Linked DNA regions of Homo sapiens. The gene in region 3 interacts genetically with the main gene of each other region. Each region holds a gene or a part of one and is shown on either strand. Other genes may lie near its edges.

What was found.
Region 1: changes in TRAPPC9 (region 3) and MAN2A1 together harm fitness more than expected from each alone (negative genetic interaction), as found in Homo sapiens cells (one large-scale study listed by BioGRID).
Region 2: changes in TRAPPC9 (region 3) and SLC30A5 together harm fitness more than expected from each alone (negative genetic interaction), as found in Homo sapiens cells (one large-scale study listed by BioGRID).

What each region holds. Positions count from the first base shown.
Region 1 is NC_000005.10:109,818,927-109,822,426, reverse strand, and holds part of MAN2A1 (alpha-mannosidase 2), read right to left. Parts: intron 2,759-3,500; coding exon 2,540-2,758; intron 2,208-2,539; coding exon 2,085-2,207; intron 1-2,084. UniProt on the Homo sapiens protein: Catalyzes the first committed step in the biosynthesis of complex N-glycans. It controls conversion of high mannose to complex N-glycans; the final hydrolytic step in the N-glycan maturation pathway.
Region 2 is NC_000005.10:69,097,014-69,100,513, reverse strand, and holds part of SLC30A5 (proton-coupled zinc antiporter SLC30A5), read right to left. Parts: intron 1-3,500. UniProt on the Homo sapiens protein: Together with SLC30A6 forms a functional proton-coupled zinc ion antiporter mediating zinc entry into the lumen of organelles along the secretory pathway.
Region 3 is NC_000008.11:139,730,485-139,733,744, forward strand, and holds part of TRAPPC9 (trafficking protein particle complex subunit 9), read right to left. Parts: intron 1,719-3,260; coding exon 1,495-1,718; intron 745-1,494; coding exon 577-744; 3' UTR 1-576. UniProt on the Homo sapiens protein: Functions as an activator of NF-kappa-B through increased phosphorylation of the IKK complex. May function in neuronal cells differentiation. May play a role in vesicular transport from endoplasmic reticulum to Golgi.

The DNA.
Region 1 (3,500 bases), on a different chromosome or scaffold from region 3:
TCTGACATTAGAGCTATTTAAAGATAAAATGGTTTTAAATAAATTAGTTATTGGTATCTACGCATGAAATTCTATAGCACAACTACTTTTTTAAGTATAAATACAGTCAATCAAAATAAAATGTCCAATGACAAAAGCTGGTGAATGAGAAAACACTGAAACAGCTCATATTTGGGACTCACTGCCCATCCTGGAATGCCTCATATGAGTTGTAGTTTGTCTTTAATTCTTCACTGACTTAAAAAAAAAAAAAAAGAAAAACCCCAAACAGCCAAAAAAAAAACCAAAAACAAAAACAAACAAAAAACCTAGAGTCCTTACTGTAGCCTACACAATCCCTTAAAATCCAGTATTGGATTTTAGTTAGCAGGTTTCATAACTTGTGGAACAAAAGTAACTTTTTCAGGAGATAGGTCCCTAGCTAACAAGACAATAATTAGGATAACATTTCACTGATCTTGAGGTATAGAAAACCTATAAAGGTATAAAAGCAAAGGAAGAAACTCTACAGAAAAAAAAGAAATGACTACACAAAAATTTAAAACCACTATAAATGAGAAATACAATAAAATAATTAACAAACTAAATGACACAATAAGAAAAATTTTACAACATATAGGGAAAAGGATTAATTTTACCACATATAGAGTGCTCAGAGATCATCAGGACACACCAACAGAAAAACAGTCAAAGAATAGAAATAGGAAAATCACAAAAGAAATATGAAAGATAAATGAAGGTACAAAAACGTTCAACCTTACTAGTAACCACAAAAATCTTAACAGAAAAATATTTTTCTACTAACTTACTATTATAGGCAAAGCTTGTAATATGGCCAATTCTCAGTGCTTGGAGTGGGATTTTAGAGTTAATCTCAAAAAATGCTGGTGGGATTGAACATTTACCTAGTCTTTCTAGAGGGAAGATAAGCAGTACACAGCAAAAGTCCTTAAAAGACTTCAGACACTGATACAAAATGACTCTTCTAGAAAGTTATTCTCAGCAATTAATCAGAATTGCATTGTAGCATTCTTTTTGAATGCTACAAAGAAAGCTTATTACAATGTTATGGTAGTGAAGAATCGGGAGAAAAAGAATATAAGCAACATCTTAAACACAACAGTATATATTAAAATTGGATTTTTAAAAAACATACCATCAGATTGTGAGCACTGTCACAAATGAAAAACAAAATATGTACATGCAATAAGTCAAGACTTGAGAACGGGGAGAAAAGGATATGCATAAAATAAAAGACAATAAGAAATACATCCAAATGTTGGCAATGGTTTTCATGGGATTGTGCACCTGTTGGTAAATTTTAATGTTTTCTTTAGTTTCTGGCATTTTCAAAATGTGCCAGAGTTTGCGTATTACTACCTTTATAGTCAAGAGTGAGAAAGATTTGTTTTTTAAAGGGCTGAAAGTTAAGGAGAAAAATGGTCCAGTGGAAAATCTATTTTTCCCATACGGCTAGAGGTTTTGTGTCTGTATAAAATGCATACATATAAAGCTCCCTAACTCTACGTAAAATCTAGTTTCTTCCCATGTTCATTGTTTATCCTAACTGAACATTGTTCATTGTAGCATCTTAACAAATTCCAACTCTAAAAAACTATTTATCTAACGGGGTCTTGCTCCGTCAACCCAGGCTGGAGTGCAGTGGCGTGATCTTGGCTCACTGCAACTGCCTTCCGGGCTCAAGCCATCCTCCCACCTCAGCCTTCCTGAGTAACTGGGACTGTAGGTGCAGGCCACCATGCCTAATTTTTGTATTTTTTGTAGAAAAGGGGTTTTGCCATGTTGCCCAGGCTGGTCTTGAACTCCTGAGCTCAAGCAATCTACCCTCCTTGGCCTCCCAAAATGCTGGGATTACAGGTGTGAGCCACTGCGCCCAACCATTTATCTAACTTTCGACTACAAATTGCTAAGTATCAATAAGGTGATAGATAATACTGCAACCAAAAGTTCATCTATCCCTAATAAATCAACAGATGATAAAATAATGACACTCACTTATCTTTTTCCTCAATACTCTTTCAATAAGTGTTTATTCCATTTGTCATCTCATCAGTACCACTTACCTTGGCATTACCATCAGGTAAGAAGAGGTAGGCACCACTTTTGTCTCTTTTAATTGTGGTTCCATACCATGAAAATTGCACATTTACTTCATGGTGTTTACCATCTTCTTTAGTCATCATTTGCTAAAGATTAAAAAAAATAATAATAAGCAACTCACCACTAAGATGTTAAGCATGTTGCATCTGGTTCTATGTATATGACAATTTAAAAAAATAATTTCTGTACTTATCTGGTGGACCAGTGACACACAGACCACGGAGTAGCGCCACCCACAGACTATACATGTGAGCAGCAAGTGGTCAATGAAGGTGCAAAAAGCTCATGCTTCCTTTTACTCAAGAGTATTTGATACAGCTCTACTTAAGACTTTTTTCCCCTTTTGCCTAATTAATCTACACACATTGTAGCAAAAATGATAAGCATTCTATGAATTTTAGAACTATTCAGAACATACCTTCATAAGTCCAGTTTGATCAAACCGAAGTAAAACAAAGGAGTTCTCTAGTGTTATACCTTCTTCAGTATTTATCATATTCTTTATGGTGAAAATTCCGCTATCTTCTACTTTATTCTTATACAAGACATAATCAGCTAAATGTGAATTTGAACTTGCTGATTCCAAAATCTTATACACTTTCAGTCCCAATGGCGGTATATGTGCTCGAAAAGAGATCTTTAAAAGATAGGGAAGGGAATTTATTAAAGATAAATGTTATCTACTGAGAGGCAAACCATTTATATTTTTGGTAAAACCAACAAACTATCATATTTTTTAAAAAGAGAATCCAGTTGGCCCTCCATATCCACAGGTTCCATGTCCACAGTTTCAACCAATTACAGATAAAAAATGTTTGAAAAAAAAACAAAAAACAAAAAATACAAATAAAAACTATAGTATAATAACTATTTACATAGCATTTACATTGTATCAGATGTTACAAGTAATTTAGAGATGATTTAAAATACACAAGAGGATGTGTGCAGGTTATATGCAAATGCAGATGCTCCTCAACTCATGATTGGGTTATGTCCAATTAGAATTTGAAAATATCGTAAGTCAAAAAGGTGTTTAATACACCTAACCTATCCAAAATCATAGCTTAGCCTAGTCTACCTTTCATGTACTCAGAACACTTAAATTAGCCCACAGTTGGGCAGAATCACCTAACACAAATCATATTTTATACTAAATATAAATAGCTTATGTAATTTATTATATACTATACTGAAAGCGAAAAATAGAATAGTTGTATGGGTACTTGAAGTACGGTTGCTACTGAATGCACATTACTTTCACGCTATTATAAAATTGAAAAATCTAGGTTGAGCCATTGTAAGTCAGGGATCATCTGTACTATGCCATTTTATATAAAGGACTTGAGCATCCATAGATTTTGTTATCCCCAGAGGGTCCT
Region 2 (3,500 bases), on a different chromosome or scaffold from region 3:
CAGGTGTGAGCCACCGCGCCCTACTGTTAACATTTTGAGGCCAGGTGCAGTAGCTTGAGACCAGCCTCCGCAACGTGGCAAAAGCCTATCTCTACAAAAAATACAAAGAATTAGCCAGGCATTATGGTGCGTGGTAGCAGTCTCAGCCACTCGGGAGGCTAAGGTGGGAGGTTGAGGTTGCAGTGAGCTGTGTTCGTGTCACTGCACTCCAGCCTGGGCGACAGAGTGAGACCCTGTCTCAAAATACAAACAGGCTGGGCGCTCATGCCTGTAATCCCAGCACTTTGGGAGGCTGAAGTGGGTGGATCACCTGAAGTCTGGAACTCAAGACCAGCCTGGCCAACATGGCGAAAACTCACCTCTACTAAAATACAAAAATTAGCTGGGCGTGGTGGCGGGTGCCTGTAATTCCAGCCACCTGGGAGGCTGAGGCAAGAGAATCGCTTGAACCCGGGAGGCAGAGGTTGCAGTGAGTCGAAATTGCACCACTGCACTTCAGCCTAGGTAACAGAGCGAGACTCTGTCTCAAAACGAACCAACCAACCACAACATTTTGGTATACATACTTCTGGTTTCTTTTCAATGTATATGAATGATTATGTATAGATACAGTTTACTTTAACAAAAGATGCCCAATGAAAAATGAAAATTTTGTTGATCGAGTTGCTGGACTATTTTGTTATCTGCTTTCTAACTTAATAACTCCTCCAAACAAATAAGGAGAACAAAATAAAAACTAAATTCTGTTATGAAATGAAAAGACCACAATATAGGAAGAAACGGAAGAATGGTAAATGCCTTTGGTTTGCGCCTCCTTGGCCTTGTTAAGTGACTACAGTGAGAGTTGTGGTTGAAAGGTCAATTGACTGGACCTAGAGTCCTAAAAAGGCTCAGGAATTGGAAACACCTCAGGAGGGGAATGAGAAGCTGAAAAGACGAGGATCTCTAGGAAGTCTTCCAAGTAATCAGATCCCCAGGTTCCCACCCAGCAGGCAGGCAACTATCTCTCCTCAACCACTATAGGAGTCACGAGTCTTAGCCTCTGGCGAGGTCACTTAAATTTCCTGAAGTAGACAACTCTGCTGGCTTTATAAGAGAATGTCCATGTTTTTAGGAAAAACAAGGATTTAAGGATAAAGAAGCATGAATTATGTAACTTATTCTCAAATAGTCCAGGGGAAAAAAATACCTGTGTGTGTGCATTCAGAGAGAATAATAAATTACACAGGACGATACATTAACAATTACGGAGTCCAGGTAAAGAATATACTACTCTTGTGACTTTTAGGTAAACAGGAAATTATTTTTAAATGAGTAGTTTAAAAGTGTTATTTATTCAAGAGTGTATTGTCTCAGGTAGGGAAATGTGGTAAACAATCCTTTGCTATTTTATTTGTACTATTTACTTAGCAGAGTTACCCTTCTATTGTAGTTTATTGCAGAATCAATCAAATGCAACTCAGGACTGGTTGAATTTTGATGGATTCCAGGTTGCAAGAGTTTTACTTTATACAGACCAAAAATCAAATACTAGTTATAATCTGCAACAAAAACTAGTTGACAAGTCCTTTAATTGTGGGTATTTTTATGCCTAAATTCACAAATATGGATTATTTTAAACAAAGGTTTATTTTGGTTTAAGTCCTCTTTGCGGGGAAGGGCAGAGGGTCACAGTTAACATTTGTTGAGCACCTGCTATGTTCCAAGTGCTTTGAATATATCATTTCATTTAATTCTTACAACAGTCCTACAAACTAAGAAGTGGTATCCTTGTTTCACAAAACTGAGTCGTAGAAAAGTAATTTGCCCAAGGTCACACAACTAATAAATAAGCTGGTAGTCCGAGTTGTTTAAAACCCCATGTATAGTGCCTTCTACATAGTAGATACTTGAGTATTTATTAAATGAATTGAACTTGAATTACACACTGATTTTTATTTTTTAGCCAGAGAACTGTTGAGCTACTGCAGTAGGCAAAGCCCAAGAGGCAGGTTTGAACCTAAATCCAGATTTCAGTAATTCCATGTTTAGAGAACCAGGGAATTTTCTTTGATTGAACCCCCGGGTTCAAGCAATTCTCCTGCCTCAGCCTCCTGAGTAGCTGGGATTACAGGTGCCTGCCACCATGTCAGGCTAATTTTTGTATTTTTAGTAGATGGGTTTTTGCCATGCTGGTTGGCCAGGCTGGTCTCATACTTCTGACCTCAGGTGATCCACCCACCTTGGCCTCCCAAACAAAGTGCTAGGATTACAGGCATGAGCCACCGCGCCTGGCGAGAACCAGGGAATTTTCTAAACCTTCACAGAAAAGTCCAGTGATAACCTTTGACAAGACTAGTTAATGGGAAATAATGGTTTATAAATTGGGGGTGTGGGGGGATGGGCCAGGCATGGTGGCTCATGCCTGGGAAGCCTAGGCAGAATGATTACTTGAGTCCAGGAGTTCAAGACCAACCTGGGCAATACAGCGAGACCCCGTCTCTCCAAAAAGTTTTTAAAAATTAGCCTCCCTCTCCTCTCCTCTCCCGTCTCCACGTCCTGATAAATCGACGCCATTGTTTTTCCTTCATAACATGAACTAGGAATGTCTGCTTATCAATATAGGTTACTTAGCCTGGTTTTTCATCTTTAGCCCAACAGTTCATTAATTGGAACTTTAAAAATCAAAGAATCCAGGCCAGGCATGGTAGCTCATGCCTGTAATCCCAGCACTTTGGGAGGCTGAGGTGGGACGACTGCTTGAGCCCAGAAGTTCGAGATCAACCTGGGCAACATAGCAAGACCTCATCTCTACTAAAAATTAAAGAATGAACTGGGCATGATGGTGCACATCTGCAATCTCACATACTGGGACCTCATCTCTACTAAAAATTAAAGAATGAACTGGGCATGATGGTGCACATCTGCAATCTCACATACTGGGGAGGCTGAGGTGGAAGGATTGCTTAAGCCCAGGAGTTTGAGATTGCAGTGAGCCATGATTATTTTACTGCACTCCATCCTGGGCAACAGAGGAACTGAACTTGTCAGAAAGAAAAGAAAGGGAAGGGGAAGAAAGGAAGGAATGAAGGAAGGGAAGGAAAGAAAAAGAGAAGAAAGAGCAGGGCGCAGTGGCTCACGCCTGTAATCCCAACACTTTGGGAGGCCCAGGCGGGCGGATCACGAGGTCAGGAGATCGAGACCATCCTGGCTAACACGGTGAAACCCCGTCTCTACTAAAAATACAAAAAATTAGCCCGGCGCGGTGGTGGGCGTCTGTAGTCCCAGCTACTCGGGAGGCTGAGGCAGGAGAATGGTGCGAATCCGGGAGGCGGAGCTTGCAGTGAGCCGAGATCGCGCCACTGCACTCCAGCCTGGGCGACATAGCGAGACTCCGCCTCAAAAAAAAAAAAAAAAAAAAAAAAGAAAAAGAGAGGAAGGGAAGAAACAACTAAAATCTCTAAGGGTGTTTTTTGTGTTCTGTTTTTTTCTAGTACATATACATTTACTTTTTTTTTGTT
Region 3 (3,260 bases):
CGGGTGGAGGGCCTCTCTTGGCATCAACCATCCACGACCTCCTACGGCACCATCTCTCCTGCCAAGTTGCCCATGGGGGTCTCCAGGAAGAAAACCAGCCTTGGGGGATTCCAAGGCCCAGGGAGGGTGGGAAGCTGCCCACGCCCTCAGGCTGTGCCCAGTCTCATGCTCACCATTTCTTTCTATGGCCAAAGGGAAGTCGCTGGACGAGGGAGGTCCCTCTGCTGGGATGAGCAGCACAGCACGGCTGGGGCCCCAGGTCACAGAAATGGGTGCAGGGATCCTGGGACCTGGGCTGGATGGGCACCCGCTTTGGGATTTCCTCTGCTTCAGCCTGTGTATGGTCCAGGGAACAGTGTAGGAAGGGGCGTGGCATGGGGTGGGGCTGCCATGTCCGGGGCTTCTGCGTAGCCCAGCAAAGATGCTACAGGAGGAACAGGAGGAGAGGGCTGGGAGGGGTCTGGGGGAGGAGGAGGAGATGGGGCTGCAGTGAAGGCCTTGCTCATTGCAGGGGGTGTGGGAGGCCAGGCAGGGTCACCTCTGGCCCTGCAGAAAGAGGGACGGAAGTAGGCGGGCTCAGGCCTGCGCCTCCAGGGCACACACGTGCACACTGGGCAGGCAGAACCAAGAGGGTGGCAGCTCCTTGCTGGTGCTGTCCTCGTGGAACCGGATGTGGAGGAAGAAGTCTCCCGTGTAGAGGAAGAGGAGGGCCCCGAGGCAGGCCGACTGGCCGGACGGCTGCACCTGAGCAGGGAGGAGAAAGACACATCAGTCTGGTCAGCAGCAGGGGCCACCCAAAGCCACCAGGAATCCTGGGAATCTGCCTGGACATAGGTGTTATGGGGGAAGCGAGGGCCGCCCAGGCCTGGCTCCAGTGCCCCCTCCAGCAGGTCACTGCGCCTCTCCGAGCCAGTTTTCATCTTGGAAAGGAGCTGCCAATATTCCCATTCCTGAATTGTTTGGGGGCTCAGGGGGTCAGGAGTGTGGGAGGGTCAGGAGTGTGGGAGGGAGTGAGGGAGAGGTTGGGGCAGAGGGGAATGGAATGTTAGCCTGTGCTGGGGCCTGACAGTGAGGTGCTGAGAGGCAGCTTGAGAGGTAGGAGGTGGGAGGTGGGGGCTGAGGGCGTAGGGCTGGAGCCTTTCCGTGGAAGGAGCGGCAGGCACGGGATGGGTGACAGTGACATCACAGTGATGCCACAGCAGGGTCCAATCATGGAGCAGCCCCCTGTCCTGGGCACAGCTCCCATTCCCTGCACATTTTCCTGCTTCACCAACCCTGAGGGCCTCACTGTCCAGGACTGAGAGACAGGTGAGCTTGTCTAAGTTCCTGCAGTGAATGGGGCAGACTCAGACTCAGTGTGCACACGTGACCACAGAACCCCTGCTGCTATCGTCTGCTGGACATATGCTGACCCCAAAGCCCACCACCCAGGGAAGGGGGGATGATGACCACATGGCCAGAGGCTCCCAGACCGCCTTGCACACCACCACGCACCGCGTCGAGGTAGAAGGTGCTGGAGCCCACGAAGGAGACGGTGTCGTGCAGGTCGTAGTTGTGCACGCCGTTCTGGTGGTCCTGGAAGGGGACCACAGTGAGGGCGAAGGGCCCTACGCTGCGCGGGCTCCGGTTGGTCAGCCGCACCTCCAGGCGCACGGGGTCGCCCACCTGGCAGGCCGCCACAGCCTCGCGGTCACATGGCTGTCCGTCCACCAGCACATCTGTAAGGGACACGAGACTGTCGGGGGCTGGGCTGGCCTGCACGGCCCAGCCGGCCTACCCCACCCACTCGCTGATTCATTCATTTCTTCCCTCCTTCACTCTTCAAGGCTGCCACCCACTCCCTGCCAGGCTGGACACTGGGGACACAGATGTGTGACCAGTTCCTGGTCTCCGGAAGAGGAACCTGGCAAAGACGGGTGTGGTGGCTAGAGCTATGACTCAAGGGGTCTGCACCCCAATGGAGGGGCCTCTGGGAGGGCCTCCTGCCACAGCCCACCTAGAAGGGGAGGAGCTCTCTAGTGAGTCAGGGACTCCTGTCCAGGTGAGAGTCTGACACCGTAGAGGCGAGGGCGTGGAAGGGGCCCTACAGGCCCTAAAGTGCCGCAGGTCAGGGGTCAGGTGAGCTTTGGGGCACAGGCAGGCCCGAGGTCCCTCTCCTCCAGTGGCTGCAAGACCACACACCCCAGGAGGTGGTGTCTTGATCTCGTTCCCCAGGAGGAATGCACAGTGGGCTCCAGCACTCCCTATAAAGTGGCTGCACTGTGTTTTCTTCATTCTGTCAGCCTGTCCAGGGTGCCTGACACACAGCTCAGCACAGAACAGGTGCTCAGGGAAGTGGCACGGTTCTGGGACCCGTGGACCCTGCCAGGCAGGGAGCTGGTCCTGGGCGAAGGAGCATGGATTCATCTCCTCTTCCCTTCCTTGCTTACATGCCCCAAGAGCTTGCAGACAAGGAGGACGCCTCCTAACTGGGCAGCAGCAAGGAAGGAGGCTGAGGTCAGGGTGGGGTGGGGGCGGAGAGAGTGTGCCCTCTCTCAGGGAAGCGAGCTGATGATCAGGGTGGCAGGTTTCATGGTGATCCCCAAAAGATACGTGAGAATGTGACCGTATTGGGGAAGGGGAGTCTTTGAAGATGTAATTAAGTGAAAGGTCCCGATAGGAGCTCATTCTGGATTAGAGTGAGCCCTGTAGTGAGTGACAATGTCCTTATATGGGGCAGAAGAGGAGGAAGCACAGACAGAGACAGAGGCTGAGACTAGAGGATACGGGCAGGAGCCAAGGAGCCCTGGGTGGCTGGAGCCCCTAGGAACTGAAGGAGGGAAGAATAAGCCCCCAGAACCTCCCATGGTCCTGCAGCACCTTGGTCTCAGCCTTCCTGCCTCCAGAACTGAGAACACACATCTGTTGTTCAAGTACCCAGTTTGTGGTCGTTCGCTGTGGCAGCCCTAGCAGGCTAAGATGTGGGGTGGGGGGCCCTTCCTGCTGGGCAAAGGCCACCTGCTGTGGCCCTGTTGTGGAGGTCCTGGAAGTGGGAGGTCCCGCAGCCTGCAATTTGACTTCATGTCATCCAAGTACAAACTGCGTGGCCCTGGGAGCCAGCCTGAGCCCCATGGTCTGCCGTGGCTGATCCTGTGCTGTGGGCTATCAAGGCAGGCAGGTGGAATAAGGATGACATGATGGTGACACGCATAGGGAGAGCAGGTGGGCCACAAGAGCACTCCCACCCCTTCTGCCCCTTAACACAGTCACGGGCATCCTGG